2 separate regions of the Homo sapiens genome follow, and region 2 is linked to region 1. Evidence: fine-mapped expression QTL. A gene starts in region 1. The other region holds a variant in brackets. All regions are shown on one strand. Distances are from middle to middle.

Evidence for each region. PIP is the estimated chance that this variant, and not a neighbour inherited with it, causes the effect. A credible set is the group of variants that fine-mapping cannot tell apart.
Region 2: its variant is the best candidate, but not a certain one, in a credible set for the expression of CAPS in NK cells (Schmiedel 2018, PIP 0.50).

The regions. Positions count from the first base shown.
Region 1 is chr19:5,909,866-5,918,188 of GRCh38, forward strand. It overlaps CAPS (calcyphosine), which reads left to right and starts at 4,389. Exons shown (of 5, transcript NM_004058.5): 1 at 4,389-4,444; 2 at 4,520-4,624; 3 at 4,698-4,875; 4 at 5,075-5,281; 5 at 5,356-6,346. The coding sequence starts at 4,542. The coding sequence ends at 5,457. It overlaps VMAC (vimentin type intermediate filament associated coiled-coil protein), which reads left to right. Exons shown (of 2, transcript NM_001017921.4): 2 at 1-988. RANBP3 (RAN binding protein 3) reads right to left here. Exons shown (of 17, transcript NM_007322.3): 16 at 7,929-8,115; 17 at 6,274-7,788. The coding sequence ends at 7,745.
Region 2 is chr19:5,877,614-5,885,936 of GRCh38, forward strand. No RefSeq gene overlaps it. Among named protein-coding and RNA genes, the nearest start is that of FUT5, 11 kb to the left of the region's middle. The variant T/C (reference allele first, on the strand shown) is at 3,570.

The sequences.
Region 1 (8,323 bases):
TGCGCTGTCCTTCTTAGCCCAGGACATTCAGGGTGCTTTGCTTGTTGTCAAACCAGGGAAAGGAGAAAACTCCTGTGCCTTTCTGGGCCAGCCTGTCACCCTGGCCTGGTCGGCAGCCATTCCCCTACCTCCTCACTCAGGAACTGTCACACCAGGAACCGGCGAGGGGCACAGCCTGTTTCAGACCAGAAAGGTCGGAGGCCACCCACGGCCTTCAGGATGGCGCCCGCCTGCCTGCCTGGCAACAGTGACCCCTCAGTGCAGTAACAATGGGCCCATTTTCTCCTCTGGATGAACAAGGAGGGGGGTTGTTTGTACAAAGGAAAGGCAGGCTGGGGCCTGTCTGTGCTCAAGAATAAACCGGATGATTTCCTGGCCTGGGGGCAAGAGGGAGGCCCTCTGTGTTATTTGTGCCTCCTGGTAGGGTCCTGCTGGGCCAGGTAGAATCTAGGGAGTGTAGGCCAAGCACTCTCTACAGCGATTGCATCTAATCTTCGAGTTTCCCTGTAGACACAGGCTTTGTCCTCATTTTACAGCTGTGGAAAGTGAGGCCCAGGCCGGGCGCGGTGTCTCACGCCTGTAATCCCAGCACTTTGGGATGCGGGTGGATCACCTGAGGTCAGGAGTTCGAGACCACCCTGGCCAACATGGTGAAACCCCGTCTCTACTAAAAATACTAAAATTAGCCGGGCTTGGTGGCGGGTGCCTGTAATCCCAGCTACTGAACCCGGGAGGCGGAGGTTGCAGTGAGTGGAGATTGCACCACTGCACTCCAGCCTGGGAGACAGAGTGAGACTCAGTCTCAAAGAAAACAACAACAACAACAACAACAACAACAACAACAACAAACAGAGGCCCAGAGGTGTGAAGGGAACACACTCCGGGTCTGGAGGGCCAGGGCCACTTCCAATTCTGGGGGAAGTTATTGCTGAAATTCTGTTTTCTTTCTTTCTTTCTTTTTTTTTTAAAGAGACAAAGTCTCACTGTTGCCCAGGCTGGAGTGCAATGGTGTGATCACAACTCACTGCAGCCTCAAAATCCTGGTCTTGGCTGGGCCAGTGGCTCACACCTATAATCTCAGCACTTTGGGAGGCCAAGGCAGGTGGATCACCTGAGGCCAGGAGTTCAAGACCAGCCTGACCAACATGGTGAAACTCCGTCTCTACTAAAAACACAAAAATTAACCGGGTGTGGTGGCGCGTGCCTGTAATCCCAGATACTCGGGAGGTTGAGGCAGGAGAATCACTTGAACCCGGGAGATGGAGGCTGTAGTGAGCCGAGATTGTACCACTGCACTCCAGCTTGGGCGACAGAGGGAGACTCCGTCTCAAAAAAAAATCCTGGGATCAAGCTATCATGCTACCTCAGCCTGCCAAGTAGCTGGGACCATGGGCATATGCCACCATGCCTGGCTGCGTTTTTGCATTTTTTCTAGAGATAAGGTCTCATTACATTGCCCAGGCTGGTCTTGAACTCCTGGCCTCAAGTGATCCTCCCGCATTGGCCTCCCAAGAAATTCTTACTAAACATTTACAAATGAGATGCCAAAACAGCACTTCAGTAATAGTGGTTATATTTTATAGTTCTCTACACAGAAAAAAAAATGCTGCTTGTAACACTCATAGACATGAAAGTATTTCTCTGCCTATTTAAATAATTCTGGATTGCAGTGAGCCACCAGGATTTTGGCAGCCAGATGTCACCATGATTTCTCATAAAACTGATGATGTTACATCAGTGGTGGCCTGAATCAAGATGCTGGGATGCCTGTAACCTACAGATTGGTTTCAGACTCCAAAGGCAACTTTTTTTTTTTTTTTTTTTTGAGACGGAGTCTGGCTCTGCCACCCTGCCACCCAGGCTGAAGTACAGTGGTGTGATCTAGGCTCACTGCAACCTCTGCCTCCAGGGTTCAAGTGATTCTCCTGCCTTGGCCTCCTGAGTAGCTGGGATTACAGGCATGCACCACCATGCCCAGCTATTTATTTTTTTTAGTAGAGATGGGGTTTCAAAATGTTGGCCAGGCTGGTCTTGAACTCCTGACCTCAAGTGATCCGCCCACCTCAGCCTCCCAAAGTGCTGGGATTACAGCTGTGAGCCACCGCGCCCAGCCCTGGCCTCTTTTTTTAAGTTATTTATTTATTTTTGAGACAGAGTCTCACTCTGTCGCCCAGGCTGTGGTGCAGTGGCATGGTCTTGGTTCACTGCAACCTCTGCCTCCTGGGTTCAAGTGATTCTCCTGCCTCAGCCTCTGGAGTAGGTGGGATTACAGGCACCCGCCACCATACCTGGCTAATTTTCTTTTTTTTTTTTTGAGACAAAGTCTTGCTCTTGTCCCCCAGTCTGGAGTGCAATGGCACGATCTCGGCTCACTGCAACCTCCGCTTCCCAGGTTCATGCAATTCTCCTGCCTCAGCCTCCCGAGTAGCTGGGATTACAGGCACATACCACCACGCCCAGCTAGTTTTTCGTATTTTAAGTAGAGACAGGGTTTCACCATGTTGGCCAGGCTGGTCTCAAACTCCTGACCTCAGGTGATCTGTCTGCCTCGGCCTCCCAAAGTGCTGTGATTACAGGCATGAGCCACCGCACCCGGCTGACTAATTTTTGTATTTATAGTAGAGACAGGGTTTCACCATGTTGGCCAGGCTGGTCTCGAACTGCTGACCTCATGATCTGCCCGCCTCGGCCTCCCAAAGTGCTGGGATTACAGGCGTGAGCCACCGTGCCCGGCCAGTTTATTTACTTATTTTTAAGAGGCGGGCGTCTTGCTCTGTAACCCAGGCTGGAGTGCAGTGGTGCGATCATAGCTCACTGCAGCCTCCAACTCCCGGGCTCAAGTGATCCTCCTGCCTCAGCCTTCCAAGTAGGTGGGATTACAGGAACACACCACCATGCCTGGCTAATTTTTTGTAGTTTTTGTAGAGATGGGGGGGTCTCACTATGTTGCACAGGCGGGTCTCAAACTCCTGGGCTCAAGTGATCTTCCTGCCCTGGCTTCCCAAAGTGTTGGGATTACAGGCATGAGCCACCGCGCTCAGGCAAGGCAACTTCTGACAATATAATTGTGCTGTGAGCGAGGTAAAGCCAGGCTTGGAGAAGGCTCCGATTGATGATCCTTGGGTCGGGGCGAACAGTGGGTCCTCAAACAGGGCCCACGTTTCAAGTCCTGGAAAACCCACCTATCTTAGCGGGCAGGTATATCCGATGTCTCCGTTGAAGGCCTTCAGTGAGGTGGCTTCGTCTCTTGAGGTTTATGTCCAGGATCAGGGCTGCTCTTCCACTCGGGGTCACAACCTCTGGCTCACCACCTTGTCAGGAGCCAGCCCACTAAGTCACGTTTCAGGCCTGAAAACCAACAACAAAAGATCCGTAAAGACAGAAATCCTGGGACTGGCTCCTAACAACGGCCAGTGACAAGCTTTGTGGCAGTGAGCAGAGGTGTCCCTCAGGCTCAGCTCAGTCTCTGTGGGTTGCAGGACCTGCCCTTGGAGGTGGGCCTGGGTGGGAGGTCTTAGGGCCCCAGGACCTGGGCCACCTGGGGCTTTTTTTTTTTTTTTCTTTTTGAGATGGAGTCTTGCTCTGTCGCCCAGACTGGAGTGCAGTGGTGCAATCTTGGCTCACTGCAAGCTCCACCTCCTGGGTTCAAGCGATTCTCCTGCCTCAGCTTCCTAAGTAGCTCGGATTACAGGCGCCCACCATCATGCACGGCTAATTTTTGTATTTTTAGTAGAGGCGGGGTTTCACCATGTTGGTCAGGCTGGTCTCAAACTCCTCACCTTGTGATCTGCCCACCTCGGCCTCCCAAAGTGCTGGGATTACAGGCATGAGCCACCGCGCCCAGCCCACCTGGGGCATTTTTGTTGCTGTACAATAGAAACAAGTTCTCTATATGTTCCCCAGGCTGGTCCAAACTCCTGGGCTCAAGTGATCCTCCCACCTAGACCTCCCAAAGTGCTGGGATTTCAGGCATGAGCCGCAGTGGCCGGTCAGAACCTGGGGCCCTTTTGAACTTTGATTCCTCAGCAATTTTGTCAGCCCTGGCTCGGGCTGAGAAGCCCCTGTGAAGCCAGAGAGGGAAAGGGACCTGTCCAGGGTCACACAGGAATCATGCGTCAAGCCTCCCCAGCCACGGACTTGTCTCCATCCAGGGCATTTCAGCCCCTGCAGGGCAGTGGCCTGCCCCTCCTCCTTGGAGCCAGGAAGGGATGCAGTGCCACAGGGATCTGGCTCTGTCCCAGGCCCTGTGGGGCTGGCAGTTGAGTAAGCAGTCAGGCTGGGCGCACCCATCCCTCCCCCACTCCCCACTGCCCAGCACAGTGCATTCATGCAGCTGGGCCCCACCCCATCTCCAGAGGCACCTTCCACTAGCAACAGTCTCCCCAGGCACAACACAGCTAACACAAGGCCCCGCAGGCAGGACTCTGGGACAGACGCAGGCCAGGTGAGCATCTGAACAAGGGGCAGTCGGCCAGGGTGGGCTTGCGGGAGTCCCCACCTTGACCTCTCTCCCTTCCAGCTGCCCAGAGCCCAGACCAAGCATGGACGCCGTGGATGCCACCATGGAGAAACTCCGGGCACAGTGCCTGTCCCGCGGGGCCTCGGGCATCCAGGGCCTGGCCAGGTGAGCTGTCCCCTCTCACCTTCCTGACCCCGGCCCCTGAGACCACTGTTCCAACCGTGTCCCCTGCCTCCAGGTTTTTCCGCCAACTAGACCGGGACGGGAGCAGATCCCTGGACGCTGATGAGTTCCGGCAGGGTCTGGCCAAACTCGGGCTGGTGCTGGACCAGGCGGAGGCAGAGGGTGTGTGCAGGAAGTGGGACCGCAATGGCAGCGGGACGCTGGATCTGGAGGAGTTCCTTCGGGCGCTGCGGGTGAGCCCCCACCTCACAGTCAAGGCGTGTGCCCTGGGCATGGGGCGACAGAGGATGCTGAGATGCGGAGACGGGGACTCCTCCCTAAGAGCTGCTGTTAAGAGGCGCCTGCTGGGGCATACAGCCCCAGTGCTCTGCACAGCGTCTTGGGGGTTTGGGTGTGCTACCCACCACCCCCAGTCACCACCTCCTGTCCCAGCCCCCCATGTCCCAGGCCCGGGAGGCTGTCATCGCAGCTGCATTTGCCAAGCTGGACCGCAGTGGGGACGGCGTCGTGACGGTGGACGACCTCCGCGGGGTGTACAGTGGCCGTGCCCACCCCAAGGTGCGCAGTGGGGAGTGGACCGAGGACGAGGTGCTGCGCCGCTTCCTGGACAACTTCGACTCCTCTGAGAAGGACGGGCAGGTGGGTGGCTGCGCGGGGGGCCCCCTCCCCAGGCAGTTCCTCGGCCGTGCCCCCTCACGGCCCTCTGTTCCCAGGTCACACTGGCGGAATTCCAGGACTACTACAGCGGCGTGAGTGCCTCCATGAACACGGATGAGGAGTTCGTGGCCATGATGACCAGTGCCTGGCAGCTGTGAGCAGCTCCGGCTCAGCCCTGCTGCCCTGGCCTGTCACTCCCCACCCCTGCCGGAGACCTCCCTTCCCTGGGCCCCTTCTCTCCTGGGCAGCCACACCACAGAGCGGGGAGGGGCAGGTGGGGGAATGGAGGCTGCAGGACTGGCTAGACCAGGTCCCTGCCGGTCCACCAGGCGGAGGTGGGACAAAGGTCCTAACAGGAGTCACTGGCTCAGGACCCCAGGGAGAAACGCTCTCCCCACCCACGCCATGCTGACCAGAGATCTTGCAGCCCCTGTGGATGCCCCCGCCGAGGTCCCCCGATCCCCGCACCCGGACTGCTGCTCCCTGCCCCTCCCTTGCGGGTCCCCCAGGAAGCCAGGTGACCCCAGGTGGGAGGCTGTGTGTGGAGGCCATCCTGGAAGGAAGTTTAGACCTGCCCAGGTGTGGAGCGAGGGGCACAGGGGCATCCTAACCTCAGAAACTGAAATAAAGCCTTTGAAAAAAAAATCTGTAAAACATCAACCCCCAATCAGAAGATGGCAAATGGGGAATAAAAATAGCAGGTAACATGTCCAGCGGGCCCAGTATCTACATTCTGGTGAGCGGCCCGAGGCTGGGAGCTCTGGGCGGGGGCAGACCGGCGGGGCCTTGCAGCAGGGGTGGGGGTAAAGTGCGGGTGGTGGTGGAGAGAACAGGGCTGTGGCTGGACCCCAGCACTGGTGACACGCTGGGTGGGAGCATGAGGCCCCAGGCTGCTGGAGGTCCTCGCCCGGGGAGGTGGAGGCCGTTCCTGGTCAGGGGCTTCCTGAGGCCCCTGGGGCATGCAGAGGCCAGGGTTTTAGTTAAAAGTTTAATGTAGTTCCCAAATACATTTCATATGACAATCTTACATAAATGTTCCAAAACACATGGGCGTTATCTCGTTGTACTCGTCACTAGCTGGCTAAGGCTTAAAGCAGAGACGTGTGACTGGGTCTCTCGGGAGGGCCTCTGGTTCTTCCCGGGCTCAGGCTTGCTGGGGGCTGGGGGCCAGGGCTCTGGCGACCTAGAGGTGTGGACGGCACAGCTGCAGGAGGCCTTCTCTTAACCCTCCGAGAGTGGGACTGGGAGATTTCCTCTGAAGTCCCAAAGAGGCCCTGTGCCCAGGGGACCTCCTCCTCGGCCTCCCAGGTGGGTGGTGCAAGCTGGCTCTTGGCCATGCTCCAGGCTCGGGTGGGCACAGGCGTCCACTCCAGTGTGCTGCGTGCTTGTGAGACTGCCTGTTCTGGGACCAGCCCCTGGGCTCTTCCACCAAGATTTGGTGAGGGTCCCCCTCTGCCTCTCACAGAAGCCCCTGGCCCTGGACTGTCCTGGGGGCAGGGACACCTGTGGCTGGGGAAGGGATGGCCAACAGCGGGAAGCAGTTTGCGCCTGGTGCCTGATGATGGTGAACCACGTGACAGATGGAGACGGGAGTCAGGGGACCCTGGGGACCCTTCCAGGTCCAGTGACCTTTTCCCAGACAGGCACTCTCCAGGCCTAGGACAGACAGGGCCCCAACTCCTCATCACCCCATGACTTGGCCTGGAGGAACCTGGGGTGGGAAACAAGTAGTCCCCCAACCTCAGAGGCCAGAACCACAGGTGGGGGACAGGGACCTCGACAGAGCTGTGCCTGCTCAACGCTCGAGAGCATCTTAACCTAAGAAACCAAAACAAAGCCTTCGAAAATAAAAAGAAAAAAAGATGTAAAATATACACCCCCAATCAGAGAGGGGAAGTGGGAAATGAAGATAGTAGTTAACAGCACGTCCAATGGGCCCAGTGTCTACACTCGTACGAGCAGCCCCCCAAGCTGGGCGGGGGTCCCAGGCCTATAGTTGGGGAGCCCTGGGCAGGGGCAGAGGGCTGGCTGCTCCCCACAAAGGCAGGGCCCCACAGCAGGGTGGGAAGGGTGTGGGTGGCGGAGAAGCCAGGGGCTCTGGCTGGACCCAGAGGCTGGCGACACGCGGGGTGAAGGAACGAGGTCTCCAGTCCCAGTGAGAAGCCGTGACAAGTCTTAATGTGCCATTTCAATTCAAAGGAGGGGAGGGAGGAAATGTTCTTGTTTGTTCGCTCATCAATATGATGAGGTCTCGTGTCCCAAACCACATTCAGGCAGTTCCCGAGTCTGCTTTTGAACAGGACGTGCGGGTCCAGACTGTGGCCGGCCCAGTGGGGTGTGTGGTTCCCGGCCCCGCACCTGGACGCTGCCGGTGGGGTGGGGGCGGGTGGGCGGGTGGATAGACGGACAAAGCAGCAGCCTGGTGTGCAGCCGGGCTCCCGGCCGCTATGTGCTCCCGGTCGTCTGCCCGTCCCCTTCGTCACCAGCACCTGCAGGGAAGCAGCAGCCCCGCATCAGGATGGAGCCCGCACTTCCCAGGTCTGGCCACCCCCGCCAGGAGATCAGCACTGGATCAAGGATGGCGGGCAGCTCTTTCTATCCCCCCCAGGGTAGGGACCACCCGACTCACCAGCTGCGGTGGCCCCTGAAGGAGCCAGGACATCGTCATCGTCGCTGTCGTCCTCCTCGTTGGATGGGGCTGCCCCAGGCTCAGGCGCGGGCATCTTGGCCTCCTGCTCCTGCTCCACGCGGCTGCGCAGGGCCAGGATGCGGTGGTGCAGGGCTGCATACAACTGACCTGTGTCCTTGGAGCTGGCCTGGGAAGGGAGGAGGGTATGAGACCCCCGGACCCCAGTCCTACCCCCTCCTGCCTTCTGCAGAACACAAGTGCCAAGTCCCAAGGTTCAGAGGTGACACTGCCACAAGGCCTTGTGGGGAGGCCATTGGCCCTGGGCCTGCCGGCCTCTCCCCGAAAGGATGCCACCACTCCCAGGTGGCTGGGAATATCCCAGAGGTCAGGGTTGG
Region 2 (8,323 bases), 32 kb before region 1:
GTTCCTCAACTTCTCTGGGCGTCAGCCACCTCCTCTGTAGAGTGGAGCCACTGCCGGCACCTTCTTCAGGAGGTTGAGGTGACCTGGAAGGTCACGCTGATCCTCCCACCGCCCCACAGGGTCTCTGCGTACCCCCTCTACAGGCTGGAATGTTTGGCCTGGGTCCCTGGCCCTCTGCGGGCCTCGGTTTCCCCTCCTGTAATACTTGTAAGAACTCAGCCTCTCCCTGCTCATCTACATGGTGCTGGGGCCACTAAACAGACAGGGAGTGCGGGAAGCCCCAGGTGACGGTGACAGAAACCTGGCACCCCCTAGAAACCTGACCCTGGCCTCACCCCCGGGTCCCCTGGCACCAACACGCTGAGGTCTGCCCACCCCTGGTACCCAGGCCCAGCTGGGTTCATGCAGCTTAAATTTCAGCCTGTGGTGGGTGAAGAGGCGGGGGCTGGACACGCTTCATTTTCCAATTTCTAGAAATAAAAGCTGTGGGGCCATCTATTGTGGAGTGGAAATAAAGCCCATTGCAAAACCTTGTGTGTGAAAAAATAACAATAGCATTTACCTCCCTGCCCGGGGAGAGAAAATTCCAGGGAATACATGGGGCCGGGGAACAAAGAGGCCTTTCTCTCATTCTGGAAAGGTTTTGTGAAGTGTGCGAGTGGCAATTTTAGAATCAGAAAAGCTAATGGAGGTATTTTCTTTCTTTCTTTCTTTCTGAGACTGAGTCTTGCTCCATCGCCCAGGCTGGAGTGCTGTGGTGCGATCTCGACTCACTGCAACCTCCCACTACCGAGTTCAAGCAATTCTCATGCCTCAGCCTCCCGAGTAGCTGGGATTACAGATGCCCGCCACCACGCCCAGCTAAATTTTGTATTTTAAGTAGAGATGGTGTTTCACTATGTTGGCCAGGCTGTTCTCGAACTCCGGACCTCAAGTGATCTGCCCGCCTCGGCATCCCAAAGTGCTGAGATTACAGGCGTGAGCCACCACACCCGGCCCAATGAAGGTATTTCCGAGAACGAAAACGGTTAGGAGGTGGTCTGTTGGAACCTGGAGGTGAAAAGTATAATTTTCTTTCCTTTTTTTTTTTTTTTCCAGACGGAGTCTCCCTCTGTCGCCTGCCCAGGCTGGAGTGCAGTGGCACAATCTCAGCCCACTGCAACCTCCGCCTCCTGGGTTCAAGTGATTCTCCTGTCTCAGCCTCCCGAGTAGCTGGAATTACAGGCACGCGCCACGACGCCTAGCTAATTTTTTGTATTTTTAGTAGAGATGGGGTTTCACCGTGTTAGCCAGGATGGTCTCAATCTCCTGACCTCGTGATCAGTCTGTCTTGGCCTCCCAAAGTGCTAGGATTACAGCAGTGAGCCACCGCACCGGGCCAAAAAGCATAATTTTCTTGGTTTGTTTTCAGGCGATGTTTTCAAGGTTTCTAAGCACCTGTCTCTCCATCGGCAAAAATTACAGCCAGTAGAGCCAGCGACCTGGGCACCTGGGCCAGCCCTGCAGGGAGTGTATGGAGATGCCACTCACCTTGGGAAGATGCACCAGGAGTTACGGTCCACTCTGTCCCTGTTGGCGTTCTCTGAAGAGTAGAAATTTTCCCCTACCCAGACTCTGAGAATGTTCCAAAGACCTCAATTTATATTTGGTATCCACCTGCAGCCACTCAGTCCCTCAGCCCAGCTGTAGCCTCTGGTCACTCCCCCTCCCAGAGGGAGACAGTGTTGAGATTTGACTTCAGAACAAGGGCAGAGCCTTACAAAAAATGAGCTGGGCATGGTGGTGGGTGCCTGTAATCCCAGCTACTCATGAGGATGAGGCAGGAGAATCACCTGAACCCAGGAGGTGGAGGTTGGAGGTGGAGGTTGCAGTAAGATGAGATCACGCCACTGCTCTCCAGTCTGGGCGACGGAGCAAAACTCTGTCTCACTCACTCACTCAATAAATAAATAAATAAGCGAAAATAAATAGGCCAGGCACAGGGGCTCACGCCTGTAATCCCAGCACTTTGGGAGGCTGAGGTGGGTGGATCACGAGGTAAGGAGTTCGAGACCAGTCTGGCCAACACAGTGAAACCCTGTCTCTACTCAAAATAGAAAAATTAGCTGGGCGGGATGGTGAGCGCCTGTAATCCCAGCTACTTGGGAGGCTGAGGCTCAAGAATTGCACGAACCTGGGAGGCGGAGGTTGCAGTGAGCTGAGATCGCGCCACTGCACTACAGCCTGGGCAAGAGACTCCGTCTCAAAAAAAAAAAAAAAAAAAAAATTGGTGAGGCGCGGTGGCTCAGGCCTATAATCCCAGCACTTTGGGAGGTCAAGGTGGGGGGACTTCCTGAAGTTGGGAGTTTGAGACCAGTTGAGGTCTTTGGAACATTCTGAGACTCCGGGTAGGGAAAAATTTCTATCCTCCAGGGTACTCCAACAGGGAGGGAGAGGACTGCAAATTCTGGCGCATCTCTTCCCAAGGTGGCGTCTCCATACACTCCCCGCAACATGGAGAAACCCTCTCTCTACTAAAAATACAAAATTAGCCGGGCGTGGTGGTGCACGCCTGTAATCCCAGCTACTCAGGAGACTGAGGCAGGAGAATCACTTGAACCCGGGAGGTGGAGGTTGTGGTGAGCCGAGATTGTGCCATTGCACTCCAGCCTGGGCAACAAGAGTGAAATTCCGTCTCAAAAAAAAAAAAGATCTTGTTTATTTCTTGGTTTGTCAGTGTCTTCCCCAGATTGGGCGGCTCATGGGGCAGGGCTTGGGTCCCCAGTATGACCTGGCACCCAGTAGGCACTCAGTAAACAGGTGCTGAATAAATGTCCTTGTCTGTGATGGAAGCTTGAACTCCCACTTGGAGAATTATAAACGAAGACTGAAGATCTTTGGACTCTGGGGCAGGAGTGACCCTCCCCCTGCCCCTTCCCCACCCCCCACCGACCACCCCAGAGATTACAGCCTGCCTCAGGGGAATCTGCAGGTGAGGTAGTCCTCACCCCCAGTGACACAGGGCAGGACCTCGCAGGGCTGGAGATGGAGGAGGCCGGGTGGCAGGCACAGGCAGGCAAAGAATGCTGCCGCAGACGAGAATGAATAAACAGGCTCCTTGGATGTCAGAGGCTGGGGGTGGGGGGACACTTTGAACCTCACGCCTGGCTGGGGATGTTTGGACAAGGCAGGCGGCCAGCGGGTGTCATCAGGGCTAAAATTAACCTCCACTTCCCGCTCAGCCCCTCCCCCTGGGCCAGGAGGGAGGCTGGGGCCCCGGCCATCACTTAAGTGAGCGCTGTATGCCGGACAAAGCTCCTTGAAGAAATCAATGCACGTGGTCCTCTCAACAACCCCGACAGCTGCTATCAGTAATGGCATTGTGATTTATCCCCATTTTGCAGGTGAGGAAACCAAGGCACCGAGAAAAAGGGAGGCTGATAGCCACAAAACTCAAAAGCAGCAGAGTCAGGACTCGAACCTGGGATTCAGGGAGTGTGTTCTCACCTGGAGGTCTCCCTGAAAGCCAGGGGAGATGAAAGAGACCCTGAGCGATGAGTCCTTGGCGGAGGCGGGCATGCGGCCCCTCA[T/C]TCACTCTCCCCTAGGGACCTCTCCAGAGGTTTCCAGAGTTACAGTAACTTTGGGTCTTTTTGTGCAAATTCCAAGAGATGCCTGCTGTGCCAGTGACCTGCTGGGGACCTAAAACACCCTCATTGAGCCAGGGAAGGGTCAAGGAGGGGGCGGGGACAGGGCTGGTGGGCTGTGGAAACCTCGTGCAGATGGTGAGATATTAAAATACATCCACTCCACAAAAATTAGCTGGGCGTGGTGACGTGCATCTGTAATCCCAGCTACTCAGGAGGCTGAGGTAGAAGAATCACTTGAACCCGGGAGGCAGAGGTTGCAGTGAGCTGAGATTGTGCCTCTGCACTCCAGCCTGGGCGACAGAGCGAGACTCTGTCTCAAAAAAATTAAAAAAAAAAATTAAAAAAAAGATCCACTCCAGACCAGTGCAGTTGCTCATGCCTATAATCCCAGCACTTTGGGAGGCTGAGGCATGAGAATCGCTTGAACCTGGGAGGTGGAGGTTGCAGTGAGCCAGGATCGCGCCACCGGACTCCAGCATGGGCAACAGAACAAAACTCCATCTCAAAAAAAAAAAAAAAAAAAAGGAATGAATGATGCTGTAAGTATATCCCAAGAATTGCATGGGATATACTTACGCCAAGCCGTGATTCATGATCTATCTGAAATCCAAACTTAACTGGATGTCTTGGATTTTTATTTGCTAACTCTGATGACTTCAGCTGGGTGGGGGTGGGGGGCAGTCCCTGTAGCGGGCAGGTGCTAAGAGCAAAGGCAGGCATTAAGGAGGTGAAATCAGAGCCACACCAGGCGCTCAGGTGGCTTCCAGGACGCGACGCCTTCCTAATGGGCTTCCCAGGTGCCTCCGGGACCAGCCAGATGGAGGAGGCTTCGGGGCCTCCCTGGCCCTCACCCGCTGGGCCAGCCCCTCATCACCACCTCCCAGGTCCCTCCTGCCAGGCTCATTATTCATCTTTAACGGTCACTCGGCAGGGGGAGTGTGGGCTGGGAACACCTGGGACTCCCAGGCTTGCAGTGGGCGGCCTCACTAATGGGGGTGAGGCCCCCATTAGAGAGGCAGTAATGGGTGGGAAAGGGGTCCCGGCCCACCAAGGAGCTGGCCTGGGGCAGGAAGCATCCAATTTGGGGCAGGGGCGGGAAACAGACTTCTGCCACCCCCACCCTGCCATTTCCTTTCCTGTCGAGGCAGGAGTCCAGGGAAGCACCTCTGGATGCCTTCACCCTTCCCAATCTCCACCTGGACGGGGTCCTGCTGGGCCCCCCAGACGCAGAGGGGGCTGCTCTGGCACTCCTGCCTCCCCATATCCAGGCAGGGGTAGGATGGATGCCCCAGCCTTGACCTTCCAGCTTCCCATCTGCCAGACTTGCTCAAGAGAGTGGCTCACGGCTAAGGAGTGGAAACTGACACCCAGAGAAGGATCTAGAACCTCGTACTCTTCCATGCTCTTAGCCACTCCCCTTTCTGTCTCTCCTCTGAGCTATCACACATGTTGTTCCTCTCTCTTGGGCACTCTAGCCTGGATGACAAAGGGGGATCCTGTCTCTTAAAAAACAAACAAACAGACAAGGCTGGGTGCGGTGACTAACATCTGTAATCCCAGCACTTTGGGAGGCCAAGGCGGGCAGATCACGAGGTCAAGAGATCGAGACCATCCTGGCCAAACTGGAAAAACCCCATCTCTACTAAAAATACAAAAATTAACTGGGTGTGATGGCACACACCTGTAGTCCCAGCTACTCAGGAGGTGGAGGTTGCAGTGAGCCGAGATCACGCCATTGCACTCCGGCCTGGTCAACAGAGTGAGATTCTGCCTCAAAAAAGAAAAAAAAAGAAAAAAAAAGAAAAAAAGAAACGGCCAGGTATGATGGCTCACGCCTGTAATCCCAGCACTTTGGGAAGCTGAGACGGGCAGATCACCTGAGGTCGGGAGTTTGAGACCAGCCTGACCAACATGGAGAAACACCATCTCTACTAAAAAATACAAAATTAGCCAGGCATGGTGGCGCATGCCTGTAATCCCAGCTACTCACGAGTCTGAGGCAGGAGAATCGCTTGAACCCAGGAGGCAGAGGTTGCGGTGAGCTGAGATCGCACCATTGCACTCCAGCCTGGGCGACAAGAATGAAACTCTGTCTCAAAAAAGAAAAAAAAAAAAAGAAAAAAAATGTCCCTACACCCCTATTAGAATGGCCAAATCCAAAGCCCTGCCAACAGCAACCCCAAATGCCCCGAACCCCTGAGGACAGGGAGCAACAGGGAGTGTCATTCATTGCCGGTGAGAATGCAGAATGGTACAGCCGCTTTGGAACAGTTTGGCAGTTTCTTATAAAACTAAACATACTCTTAGGATGAGACCTAGAAATGGTACTCCTAGGTATTTACCCAAAGGAGCTGAAAACCTAACATCCACACAAAAACCTGCACACAGATGTTTACAGCAGCATTATTCACAGTTGCCAAGATTGGGAAGCAGCCAAGATGTCCTTCAGCAGGAGAATGGGTAAGAACACTGTGGTGTGCTCAGATGACAAAATTTTATTCAGGCTGGGCACGGTGGCTCACGGCTGTAATCCTAGCACTTTGGGAGGCAGGGGCGGGCAGATTACCTAAGGTCAGGAGTTCGAGACCAGCCTGGTCAACATGGGGAAACCCTGTCTCTACTAAAAATACAAAAATTAGCTGGGCGTGGCGGCACGAACCTGTAGTCCCAGCTATTCAGGAGGCAGGAGAATCTCTTGAACCCAAGCAGACATTGCAGTGAGCTGAGATCGCGCCACTGCACTCCAGCCTGGGTGAAAGAGGAAGACTCCATCTATATCTATATCTATATATCTATATCTATATCTATATAAAATATAAAATTCAGTGCTAAAAAGAAATGAGCTGTCAAGCCATGAAAAGACACAGAGGAACCTTAAATGCATTTTTTTTTTGAGACGGAGTTTCGCTCTTGTTGCCCAGGCTGGAGTGCAGTGGCACAATCTTGGCTCACTGCAAACTCTCCCCCACTCCCTGGGTTCAAGCGATTCTCCTGCCTCAACCTCCTGAGTAGCTGAGATAACAGGCGCTGGCCACCACACCTGGCTAATTTTTGTATATTTAGTAGAGATGGGGTTTTATCATCTTGGCCAGGCTGGTCTCAAACTCCTGACTTCAGGCCTCCCTCCGCCTGCCAAGGTGCTGGGATTACAGGCGTGAGCCAACACGCCCAGCCCTTCAATGCATATTACTGAGTGAAAGAAGCCCATTTGAAAAGGTGACACACTGTATGATTCTAGCTACAGAATATTCCCGAAAGAGGAAAACTATGGAGACGGTGAAAAGGTCAGTGGCTGTCAGGGGCTGGGGGAGGAAGGGACGAACAGGCAGAGCACAGTGGATTTTTAGGGTAGTGAAACTACTCTGCATGATACTGTTAAATGGTAGACATATGTCATTACACATTCATCCAAACCCACAGAACATATGCATACAACACCAAGAGTGAACCCTCATGTCAACTATGAACTTTTTTTTTTTTTTTAGATGGAGTTTTGCTCTGTCGCCCAGGCTGGAGTGCAATGGCCTGATCTCAGCTCACTGCAACCTCCACCTCCCAGGTTCAAGTGATTCTTCTGTTTCAGCCTCCCAAGTAGCTGGGATTACAGGCATGCGCCACCATGCCCGGCTAATTTTTTGTATTTTTAGTAGAGATGGGGTTTCACCACATTGGCCAGGTTGGTCTCAAACTCCTGAGCTCAGGTGATCTGCCCACCTTGGCCTCCCAAAGTGCTGGGATTACAGGCGTGAGCCACCACATCCAGCCAAAAATGACATTTATTACAATTTCTTGGCTGGGCTCGGTGGCTCATGCCTGTAATCCCAGCACTTTGGGAGGCCGAGGCAGGCGGATCACAAGGTCAGGAGATCGAGACCATCCTGGCTAACACGGTGAAACCCCGTCTCTACTAAAAATACAAAAAATTAGCTGGGCGTGGTGGAGGCACCTGTAGTCCCAGCTACTCGGGAGGCTGAGGCAGGACGATGGTGTGAACAGGGAAGGCGGAGCTTGCAGTGAGCCAAGATTGTGCCACTGCACTCCAGCCTGGGTGACAGAGTGAGACTCCGTCTCAAAAAAAAAAAAAAAAATTTCTTCATTGCTGCCCGGTGTATAGTAGCAGAAGACTGGAGGCCAGGACATGTGCTTTCACCAGAACAATGGTCCAGCCTCAAGATGGAATATTACACTGTCCTTACAAAAGAGGGGGAAGTTCTGCACTCGAAGAAAAGATCCGAGATGCATTGTTAGGAGTCAACTACGCTGAGCTGCAAGAAAGTACGGGGAGTGTGATGTTGTTTCCGTGGGGAAAAGAAAATATACAGACATGCTTGTTTTGGCGTGGAACATGGCTGGAAGGAGAAACAAGAAACCGACTAATGGCCTCTGGGGATGGCGTGGGGCTTGGGGAGTGGCTGGTATTTATTCTAAACACCCTCTAGAATCTTTTGAATTCTATGGCATGCGTCTGTCTTACCTCTAAAAGAAGGAGGATAAACTGTAAAATGCATTTTAGAAAGCATACTGAGAAAGGCCGGGCGCGGTGGCTCATGCCTGTAATCCCAGCACTTTGGGAGGCCGAGGCCGGAGGATCATGAGGTCAGGAGATCAAGACCATCCTGGCTAACACAGTGAAACCCCGTCTCTACTAAAAATACAAAAAAATTGGCCGGGCTTGGTGCGGGCGCCTGTAGTCCCAC